Linked DNA regions of Homo sapiens. The protein of the gene in region 1 purifies or fractionates together with the protein of each later gene. This does not show direct contact. Each region holds a gene or a part of one and is shown on either strand. Other genes may lie near its edges. The genes, in order: ECEL1, MAN2A2 and DNAJC16.

What was found.
Region 2: the proteins of ECEL1 (region 1) and MAN2A2 purify together in Homo sapiens (affinity purification with mass spectrometry; one large-scale study listed by BioGRID and IntAct). This does not show direct contact.
Region 3: the proteins of ECEL1 (region 1) and DNAJC16 purify together in Homo sapiens (co-immunoprecipitation; 2 studies listed by BioGRID and IntAct, with this or other methods). This does not show direct contact.

The regions. Positions count from the first base shown.
Region 1 is NC_000002.12:232,482,068-232,484,834, forward strand, and holds part of ECEL1 (endothelin-converting enzyme-like 1), read right to left. Parts: coding exon 2,734-2,767; intron 2,530-2,733; coding exon 2,405-2,529; intron 2,157-2,404; coding exon 1,934-2,156; intron 1,448-1,933; coding exon 1,349-1,447; intron 1,113-1,348; coding exon 1,038-1,112; intron 888-1,037; coding exon 784-887; intron 542-783; coding exon 483-541; intron 403-482; coding exon 351-402; intron 1-350. UniProt on the Homo sapiens protein: May contribute to the degradation of peptide hormones and be involved in the inactivation of neuronal peptides.
Region 2 is NC_000015.10:90,916,794-90,920,514, reverse strand, and holds part of MAN2A2 (alpha-mannosidase 2x), read right to left. Parts: intron 2,322-3,721; coding exon 2,127-2,321; intron 1,871-2,126; coding exon 1,760-1,870; intron 881-1,759; coding exon 728-880; 3' UTR 1-727.
Region 3 is NC_000001.11:15,547,339-15,551,059, reverse strand, and holds part of DNAJC16 (dnaJ homolog subfamily C member 16 isoform 1 precursor), read right to left. Parts: intron 2,791-3,721; coding exon 2,632-2,790; intron 1-2,631. UniProt on the Homo sapiens protein: Plays an important role in regulating the size of autophagosomes during the formation process.

The DNA.
Region 1 (2,767 bases):
CAGAGCTGGCTGGGCAGTGAAACAGGGCTGGAGGAGACAGGAGGGAAACGGAGGCACCTACGTAGGGGTTTCTCCTCCTACCTCATCATTAGTGTTGCGCCACCTTTGAAACATCAAAATGAGCCTCAAACAAGTAAAGAAGACCCCAGGAAGTTACAAATAACAAACCTACACATTTTTCTAAATAACCAAGGATGTAGTGGGGAGCCAGGGTCCACAGCTGTCCTGACTCCTGAACCCAGCTGGGTCTGGGGCGATTGGAGCCACAGTACGCCGACACACACCTGGTAGACAAGGTCTGCAATGCCAGCCCTGCCCTCAGCCACAAACAGGGCAAGCTATGTACTCACTGTGGGAAGTCAGGGTCGTACAGGGTGGGCTGCAGGATGCCCGCGGGGAACACTACAAGAAGGGGGTGCTCAGTGGGAAACCCATCCACTTTCGGACCCTGCCCCGCCCGGCGTAGGGACACATCCCCTTACCCATCTGGTTCTTGTTGGGTAGATAGTAGGCATTGAGCGCCTGTGGGGGGAGCAGCCACCTGTGGAGGGATGCTGGGGTGAATGGGGGGAACACACTCCCTCCCCCGCTACCCTCACATCACAGCTTCCTCGTCAGCCATCTCCTGACAGTCTGGGGGTCACCCTGCCGGCCCCCACCCCATGCCCTGTGCTGGCGTGTGTGCCCCCCATATCTGCATGGCTGTGAGACGATTTGCCCTACCAGCTCCTGCCCTTTCCCCACAACCCTTCCCTGACCCCCAGCTCTGGGCCAGGCACCCACGTGGACTTGTCCACCTCCTGCCGAATCTTCTTAACTGAGAGCTGGATGCTGAAGCGGATGCTGTTCAAGATGTTCTTGAAGTAGGTCTTCTCATGGACCTCAAACTGCAGGAGGCACGGGCGACACTCAGCGGCAGGCCAGGGCAGGGCTACCTGCAGACTGGGCAACAACCTGGCCGTGCAGGCCACCTGCCCTCCTGAGTGCCGTTAGTAGAGGGGCTGTGGACAGGCTGGGCAGGCAGGGTCAGGGCCCACCTCATACTCCTTGTCCACAGCATCGGGTTTCAGCAGGAAGTCCGGGTAGCCGACCATCACCATCATGTACTGGAGCTGCGGGCCGAGGGCAGGTGAAGGTGGCACCAGGCCTCGGGAGACAGCCCCCCGCCCCCCACCCTACCCACCAAGGAAGGGAGCACTAGGCCAGCCTGGGAGTGGGCTTCACAGTGGGGGAGGCAGGCCTGGTCAACTCCACGAAGGCCTCTTTGTCCCTTTTGTTCTCTTTCGCTGGTACACAGTAGGTGCTCAATATATATGGGACCAACCAATGACACTGGGTCCCCCCTCACCTTGGCCCGAGCAGCAGCCCTGGTCTCGGCGTCCATCCAGTCCAGCTCCTCCAGGCGCTGGCCCAGGATGTACTTGATGTCTTCCACTAGCTGCTGCACCTGCAGGGTCAGGGGTCAGGGAGCAAGGGTCAACCCAGCAGCCTGGTCTATCACTCCTGGCAGGAGGGGTACCCCTGCCTTTAAGCACCACTTTCTAAGCCCAAACCTCATTTCTGAACACCAAGAGGATACTTTGGAGGTGAGGATCCAGGCCCTGCACCCCCGAGGGCTCACAAGATAGAGGAGGAAACTGCCCCAGCAATGACCACAGACATCCCTAAGGCCACGCCTCCCGAGCATGCCTGAGAAGGTGGGCTGGGGCCTGGCAGGGAGGTCTGCCTGCAGTTGATAGTCCACATAAGCTTCCTGGAGGAGGAGGCCTGTGGAGGAGCAGCCTGGGGCCTCAGAATCGGCTGAGTACTTAGCAGGGCCTGGTCCCCCTGCCTGCAGGGGACATGTGGGGCTCCCCATATTAGGACCATGGCCTCGGGAGGGCTCCACCCTCAGTTCAGCACCATCCTCCTCTCTCAAACAAGGGCAACCCACCTTGGCTTTGCTGGCAGCTGAGAAGTGCTCATGTACAAAGAGGGCGCCAAGCGCCATGCCAAAGTGGCGATTGGCCTGGCCCAAGCAGACCCGGGCCAGCTCCTGTGGCTTGTCGCTGCCCTCCATCTCCTGTGCCAGCTCGTGCAGTGCCTCACGGAATGGCGGGGACAGGTGTTCACTCAGGACCACCACCACGCGCCACACCAGGTAGTTGTGCAGGACCCTGGGGACCAGGTGAAGCCAGTGGGTGTCCAGACGGACATGCATGTGGGCCACCAAGGGCACCACCCCTACCTGTGCCCGCCAACCTGTGGCTGGACCCAGGACCCAGACAGCCCCACAAAGAAGGGACAGGGGGTCATCCCAGCTATGCAGAGCAGAAAATGTAAAGCCCACCCAGCAGAGAGGTCCAGGGTGCAGGGGAAGGACCTAGTGACCGCTGGGCAGAAAATGCCAGATCTGCAGCCATACCGGTGGGGTGTGGAGCGGATGAGCTGCGACACCTGCTGCATGTAGTCTGTCGCCAGCAGCACCACCTCCTCTTCCTCTGAGAAGTCCTCCTGGAAGATCTGGTCTAGCAGCCACTTCCACCGCAACTGTGAGACCAAGGACAGGGACAGTGAGGCTAGGGTTGGCAGGGGCCACAGAAGACAGGGAGGGGGCAGAGAGAGGCAGCGAGGGGACATGAGAGTCCATGGCCAAGGAACGGTTTGCCCATCTCTGGGGAGAGATGACCCTGTAGTCCCAGCAGCAGCATTGCCCTCAACCCTGCCTGCCCACGAGGACTGGGCCACACTCACGTGGGGGGTGATCTTCTGCAGCTGCCCCAGCGTC
Region 2 (3,721 bases), on another chromosome or scaffold:
GGCCAAGTGCCCAGTTTGCCAGGGGTCTTGCTACCTGAAGTGACCTATGATCTCTGGCCATGACAATCTCTAGCGAGTCCTTCCTGCCATTCTGCAGCCTGTTAGCCAATGCATGCAGGCCAGGCGGCACTTACTGCAAAGCCATCACAGAAAGCAGCGAGGCCTTCAGACTCCTAGGAGAAACAGTGATTCCTTCTACTGCTCCATCCCCACTGCTAACTCTGGGTCCCCACCCCTGTCCTCCCAGAGTCACTCTGATCCTGCTCATCACACCAGGACATGGAGTCTCTACATAACCACAGGATTCCCCTAGAGCCTGCTGTTGCCACAGTGACCCTGATGCTGGGCTGTTACCCACTTAGCCTCCCTTACCTCTTCTGTCTGCTTCCACCACTTCTATATCCCTGTTTGGAAAAAGGATGGGTGCCTGAGCCTGTGCCCAGTTGGGTGTCCACTCACAACCCAAAGCAGAGCCTGGCACTGCCCACTCTGACCAAGGGCCTTCTCTCCCTGATCTCACTGGCGTCTGCCCTATTTACCCATCACTGGGTTTGTGGGTTGCGCCGAAAACACAGCAGCAGCAATAAACAGAAAATGAGGGCAGAGCCCAGTGTGTCACAGTTCTGGGAGGCAGATCGGGATGGGATACCCGTGTGGCTTGTCCAATGATCTTCATGTTAAGAGGCAGTCTCTGTGAATGAACTTTCTCTTCAGGCCACAAGAAGCCCTAACCCAAGCGGAGGCGAAAGGTAGCAATCTCCATGGGCTCCAAATAGACGTCAGTGCTGTTGGACGGGGAGGCCAGAGGGTACAGTAACGTCAAGGAGGTTGGCTGAAGGAATACCACATCCAGGCCATGGAAAAGGCTGCCCAGGGCTACCTGTGGAGAGCAGAGAAGGGGCAGGGTTGTGCTAGGTGCCGAGACACTAAAGAATGTGGCTGTTCATCTACAATTTGGTACCTCTTTAAGAATCTCAGCCAGGGGCAGTGGCTCACACCTGTAATCCCAGCACTTTGGGAGGCCAAGGCGGGTGGATCACCTGAGGTCAGGAGTTCGAGACCAGCCTGGCCAACATGGCGAAACCCCGTCTCTACTAACAATATAAAAATTAGCTGGGCGTGGGGGCAGGCGCCTGTAATCCCAGCTACTCGGGAGGCTGAGGCAGGAGGATCACTTGAACCAGGAGGCGGGGGTTGCAGTGAGCTGCGATCACGCCACTGCACTCCAGTTCCGGCTGGCCCCTCTCAGCAACACCATGCCTTCTTACACATGAGTGTGCATCCAGTCTCACGGGCTTGCTGAGATTTGCTCAACCCTAAAGCCTGCCTACAGATCTCTGGGTAAGAACCGTTCCACTGAGCTGTGAGCTCTGTGAAAACAGTGACCATGTCTTGGTTCACTTCTGAAACACTGGAGCCCAGCAGAGGACCTGGCACCCGGGGACATTTATCAGTGCCGGCTGATATGAGCTTACAAAGTAACAACAGGATGGGTTCTGGTTTTCTATTTCTGGTGTTTTCCACTTTGCTTGATAGAGGTCCCTGCTCAGGGAACAAAAGTTCTCAAGCGATCTACCTTGTCTGGAACTCCCCCTGCCAGGCCTCCGGAGCTCTGAAAACATGTCTACAGCTTCCCCCCTTCTCTCCAGAAAGCCCTGGAGTGACACTTTCTTCTCCCAGCCTGTCACCGAATCTCAGCCCAGTCTTACCAAGCTCATGCCTGCCATTCCTAGGTGCTCTGTTTCCCCACCCTACTCACCTTGCCTTGGCTTGTGGTGCAGTTGAAGCCCAAGTTCTTGGCCTCCAGGCCGCAGTCAAAACCCTTGCGGTGTAAGATGAGTGCGGTCTCCGCCGAGGGTAGGGTGTCCTCCTGGATGACAGACAGTGCCCAGGGAAGTGGGCGCAGGGCTTTCAGAGATCGGAGATGCAGCAGCGCCTCTGCCCAGAGGCAGTGCTGGCACAGGGAGGCGTGTGGGTAAGGAAAGGCCAAAACCTGGTCCTGGAGGTTTGGAGCCGAATACCTGCTAAGGGGTCTGGACCTCATCCTGGAGGCTAAGGAAGGAGCTGAGCAGGGAGGGACACCATCAGAACTCTGCTCTCAGCATGTCACGCTGAGGGACACTCACCTCAGCCTGGAGCGTACGTAGGTTGAGCAGGTGGAAGTCACAGGGCAGTGAGGAAGCCAGAGGATGAAATGAGCGCAGACCAGGGCCTGGGAGCTGCATCCTGGCTACAGGCAGAGCGAGCGCCGGGGCGTTCAGGTACATGGAGGTCAGGTGGCTGAGGAGGGATGGGTAGCTGGTAGAGTGGCTATCTTGGACCTGCAAAATTGACCCGAGATATTGGTGAGGGACCAAAGCCAGGCTGAGGGGAGAGGACGAGGCAGGATAAAAGCACACCCAGGTCAGTTGTTTTGGAAAGACCTTTCCTGGTGTGCCTGGACTCAAGGGCACGCCTGGCTCCAGGCGAGGTTCCGCTAACCCTTCAAGTGTGGACATTTGCCGTCTCCCCTAACGCAGAGGGCTACTTCACTAAGCTGTTTCTTCTCTACTTTTTAGTTCCTTGCTCACATAACACTATCATGAGCAACCCACTCCCATCAGCCATGTCTCCCCTCACACATGGATCCACAGTGCAGGGAGGATGGCAGCCAGGCAGACGCAGGCCTCACCATGGAGCACGGACCTCCAATCCAGAGTGCTCTGGGTAATCTGCGGCTTCACGAGCGATGCCACATCCACAGTGCCAGCCTGGCTCTCAGGCCCAGCGCGGCCGGGGCTCTGCCAGCAGGGCTACTCCTTAGCAGCTCACCTGGACGTCAGACTCACAGGCCTGGGCTGAATATTCTGGACTTCTGTCCCTGGCATCCCCCTTCTTCCAAGCGCCCAGCATCTCTCACTTCCCTCTGCATTCCCAGGTAATGCTAAACCCTCTTCCGTCGCACCTGGGCAGTGTCCTCATAGCCACCGGCAACTTCTCCAGCCTCTGGCCTAGTTCAAGCAGCCAGCATGTCCTGCCTGAACAGCCTCCCGCTGTCACCCTCCTCCAGTCTCCCTTCCCACAGATCCAACCTGCTCCGTACTGTCAGCGTGACATGCTGAGACCAGAGTTCTGACGGTGTCCCTCCTTGCTCAGCTCTTTCCTTAGCCTGGACCTTTCCTAGCCAGGATAAAGTCCAGATCCCTTAGCAGGCACTCAAGGTGCTCTGCCGTCTGCCCTGATCTCCCCCTAGCACTCTAGCCCAGCACCAGCCAAGAGGGCATTCTGCAAGGATGGAAATATCCGACACCACATGGTCTAATACGGCAGCCACTTAGCCACTTGAGTACTTGAAGTGTGGTCAGTAGGAATAAGAAAGCAAATTTTTTACTTGATTTAGTTGTAATTTAAATAGCCATATAGGGCTACTGGCCACCGTACTGGATAGCATAGCTCCAGCATAACTAAGGAACTCACTGCTATTCCCCAGCCTGTTGTCTTTCCTGCCTCCTATCCTGTGCCCTGGTTCATATCTTCAAATCACACCCCATTCATCAAAGCCACACCTGGGTGACACCTCCTTGACCTCGATCTCCTTAGCCCACATTATTACCTTGCTCCTCAGGATCAGTGAGACAAAGCCCTTTCTACCTTGCATTTTTACACACATGGCTTCTCTGCCACCCCTACTCACGAGTAAACTCCTGGGAGAGTCAGCACTGTCTGCACTTATGTCCCTCTG
Region 3 (3,721 bases), on another chromosome or scaffold:
CATCTCTACTAAAAATACAAAAATTAGCCGGGCATGGTGGCAGGTGCCTGTAATCCCAGCAACTCGGGAGGCTGAGGCAGAAGAATTGCCTGAACCCGGGAGGCGGAGGTTGCAGTGAGCCGAGATCATGCCATTGCACTCCAGCCTGGGCGACAGAGTGAGATTCTGTCTCCAAAAACAAAAGAAAACAAAATACATGAAGTGAATCTAGTGGTTTGTTTTTGCTGCGAGTGATTGGGGGTGAAGCACACAATGATGGTAGGTGGCCTGGTGCCCTGCCTGGATTCATGCACTGGCACTGGCAGCTTCACCCACTACTGCTTTGGTACTATCAGTGTAAATGTCAACACAGTGAAAAAGGCAAATCGTGTCTTGATATGATCTCACAGACTTTCTCTTGAAGGATCTTTGAGAATCCCCAGGAGTCTATCAACCACATTCTGAAAACTGCTGTCCTAGAGAACTCTGTACTTAGGTTATGATATTCATTGCAACACTATTCCTCAAAGCCCCCAATGTCCACCAACGGAAGAATGATTCAATAAATTATAATGGCCATAAATACCATATAGCAATGACAACAAATTACCTAGAGCAACAGGAAACCACTGGTGCTACTAGTGATCATTAAGCCACCTGCTGTTGTGAAAACTGAGTTTGTTAAGCATACACTTGATATCCACAAAGAGCAAGCTGGTAAAGCAGCCATTCTACCAATAATTTTGTAAATGTATTTGATTTACAATTTTCCCCAGTGGGATAAATAAATATAATTCTCAGAACTATAAACTGTTCCGAAAGACCAATTTAGGAAATCCTCATCCATTTACCCTGGATTGAGATTATCTTCTCTTTTCTATTCGGACACTGGTATTTGTTTTCTTCCTGACTTGCAGCACCTTCTCGTCTCCATCAGGCACCCCCTTGTCTTGTGTGCCGGTGGCTGTTCTGAGTTTTGTCCTTGGCCTCCTTGGCCTTACTTTACATACAGCAGTCATCCCCTAACTGCAGAGGATACGTTCCAAGACCCCCAGTAGGTGCCTGAAACCACATAGTACTGAACTCTATACAAACTATGTTTTTTTCCTATACACATACCTATGATAAAGTTTATCAATTAGGCACAGCAAGAGATTAACAACAACAATATTTAAATAGAACAATTCTAACAATATACTGTAATAAAGTGATGTGAACATGGTCCCCCTCGCTCAAAACATCTTTTTTTTTTTTTTTTTTTTTGAGACGGAGTCTTGCTCTGTCGCCCAGGCTGGAGTGCAGTGGGCGGCGTGATCTCAGCTCACTGCAAGCTCCGCCTCCTGGGTTCACGCCATTCTCCTGCCCCAGCCTCCCGAGTAGCTGGGACTACAGGGGCCCACCACCACGCCCGGCTAATTTTTTGTATTTTTAGTAGAGACGGGGTTTCACCACGTTGGCCAGGATGGTCTCAATCTCCTGACCTCGTGATCTGCCCGCCTCGGCCTCCCAAAGTGCTGGGATTACAGGCGTGAGCCACCACGCCCGGCTTCAAAATATCTTCTTGCACTGTAGTCACCTATGTTTTGGACCTGGTTGACTGTGGGTAACTGAAACCTCAGAAACTGAAAAAGGGGTAAGTGGGGTGGATCAGGGGAGACTACGGTATTATGCCGGGAAGATCTTACCCTACTCAGGACTTCAACCACTAACCATTTACTGATGATACACCAGTTTCTATCCCCAGCCTGTATGCTTTTCTTAAGATCTCGATTCCTATACCCAACTGTAGAAAGGACTTCTCCCCTTCTATTTCCTACAGGCAGCTCTAATTCAGTATGTCCACAGCCAAAGTTCTTATCTTTCTAAACCTGCTCTTCTTTCTTTACGGTCCACTTTCCCATCTGGTTTCCATGGTTTCAGGTACCCTTCTGTGTTCACAGGACACCTGAGCTGCCATTAGAGTGGACTGCCTCTAGCAAGATAGTACTTGTTTCTCTATACCCTCAACAGTACTATTTTAACTTAGAAAATCTTTGACAGTTGGATGGGTGAAAAAAGGTTAATGTTCTCTGATTACTTGTGAGATTTAATTTTTAAAAATGGTTATTAGTCTTCTCAGAATTTTATGATTTTCTTGATTAAAAGCTCTTTAGAAATTAAAAATATCAACATTTTAATATTTGTTATAAATATTCCCCCAGTTTTTTAACTTTACATTTTAAAGTATTTACATAAAAACATAAAATTTAGAGTCAAGTTATCAAGATTTTCCAAGATTTTTCCCCAATGCTTTTTAACCCTTTCCTACCTTAAGATCAGATAAATATTCATCTGTACATTCTCTCAGTTAGTTTGTGGCTTCTTCTTATTCCTTTTTATTACTGTTTTACATTTAACTTTTAAATTCATTTTGGAAAAAGATTGTTGGTTTTCCAACAGGAGCCCTTTAAAGGTGCTAAAATTTTTAAACGTTTTAAATTAAAAATTTTAAAGCAAACGGTACCAAGTTAGATAAAAAAATTCATTAAAAAATTTTGTGCATCTGAAGGAAGATCCTTTCCTTCAGCCACTTTGTTCAATTTTGCTGTTTATTTACATAAAATCTTGGGATAAAATGTGAAGAAAATCTTAACCAAGGTGACCCTCACGTACCTGGATAACATCGGCAGGCCTGTTTATATGTTCTTTAAAGACCAAGAGGGTAGGGGCGTAGATATTGATGTTGTACCGCCTTGTCATCTCTTCCGTCCCTCTCAAACCCACATATACATATCCAAATGATAAATAATCTTTGTATGCAAAGGCAGTCAACTGTTAGGGCATAATAGAGAGGAAGAAAATAAAACTACAGCAAAGATGTAAATGACAAATCAAGTAGGGCTTTTTCACATCACTGAGCAGAGAGGTACATGCCAGCTTACACAGCTCCACTAGGTCTTCCGTATCCTTGTATACTTCCATTCTATGGTGTTCCATGTGCAAAAACTGTACCAACAAAGTAAATACAAACAACTCTCTTCTTTTTCATAGCTAAAGCAAAATAACGATCTTCTTGAAATCTGTACTGGTCAGGAGGCATGAGTTTGGGGATTACCTGTACCGTAATTAGGTAAGATGGCAGTGACCATGCCACTGATAACACCTTCCTCTCCGTCTCATGTCACAGTGACATGAGAGGTAGTGGGGAGTGTAGGTAGGCTGGGAGTGTAGTGGGGGAATCATTCACAGGGCAGGTCTGAAGTCAGTGGGAATCGCGCTCACCATGCTGTAGTGAGAACTTGGGTGGGTTATATGACTGCTCTAAGCCTCAGTATCTTGCTCTATGCAAACAGGGATAGTGGCCAGGCGTGGTGGCTCATGCCTTTAATCCCAGCACTTTGGGAGGCCGAGGTGGGCGGATCACTTGAGGTCAGGAGTGCAAGACCAGCCTGGCCAACATGGTGAAACCCCATCTCCACTAAAACACAAAAATTAGCCGAGCGTGGTGGTGTGTGCCTGCAGTCCCAGCTACTCTGGAGGCAGAGGTGAAAGAATTGCTTGAACCCGGTAGGCGGAGGTTGCAGTGAGTCTAGATCACACCACTGCACTCCAGCATGGGCAACAGAGTGAGACTTGGTCTCCGAAAAAAAAAAAAAAGCCCATCACAGTGGCTCATGCCTGTAATCCCAGCAATTTGGGAGGCTGAGGCAGGTGGGTCACAAGGTCAGGAGTTCGAGAGCAGCCTGGCCAACATGGTGAAACC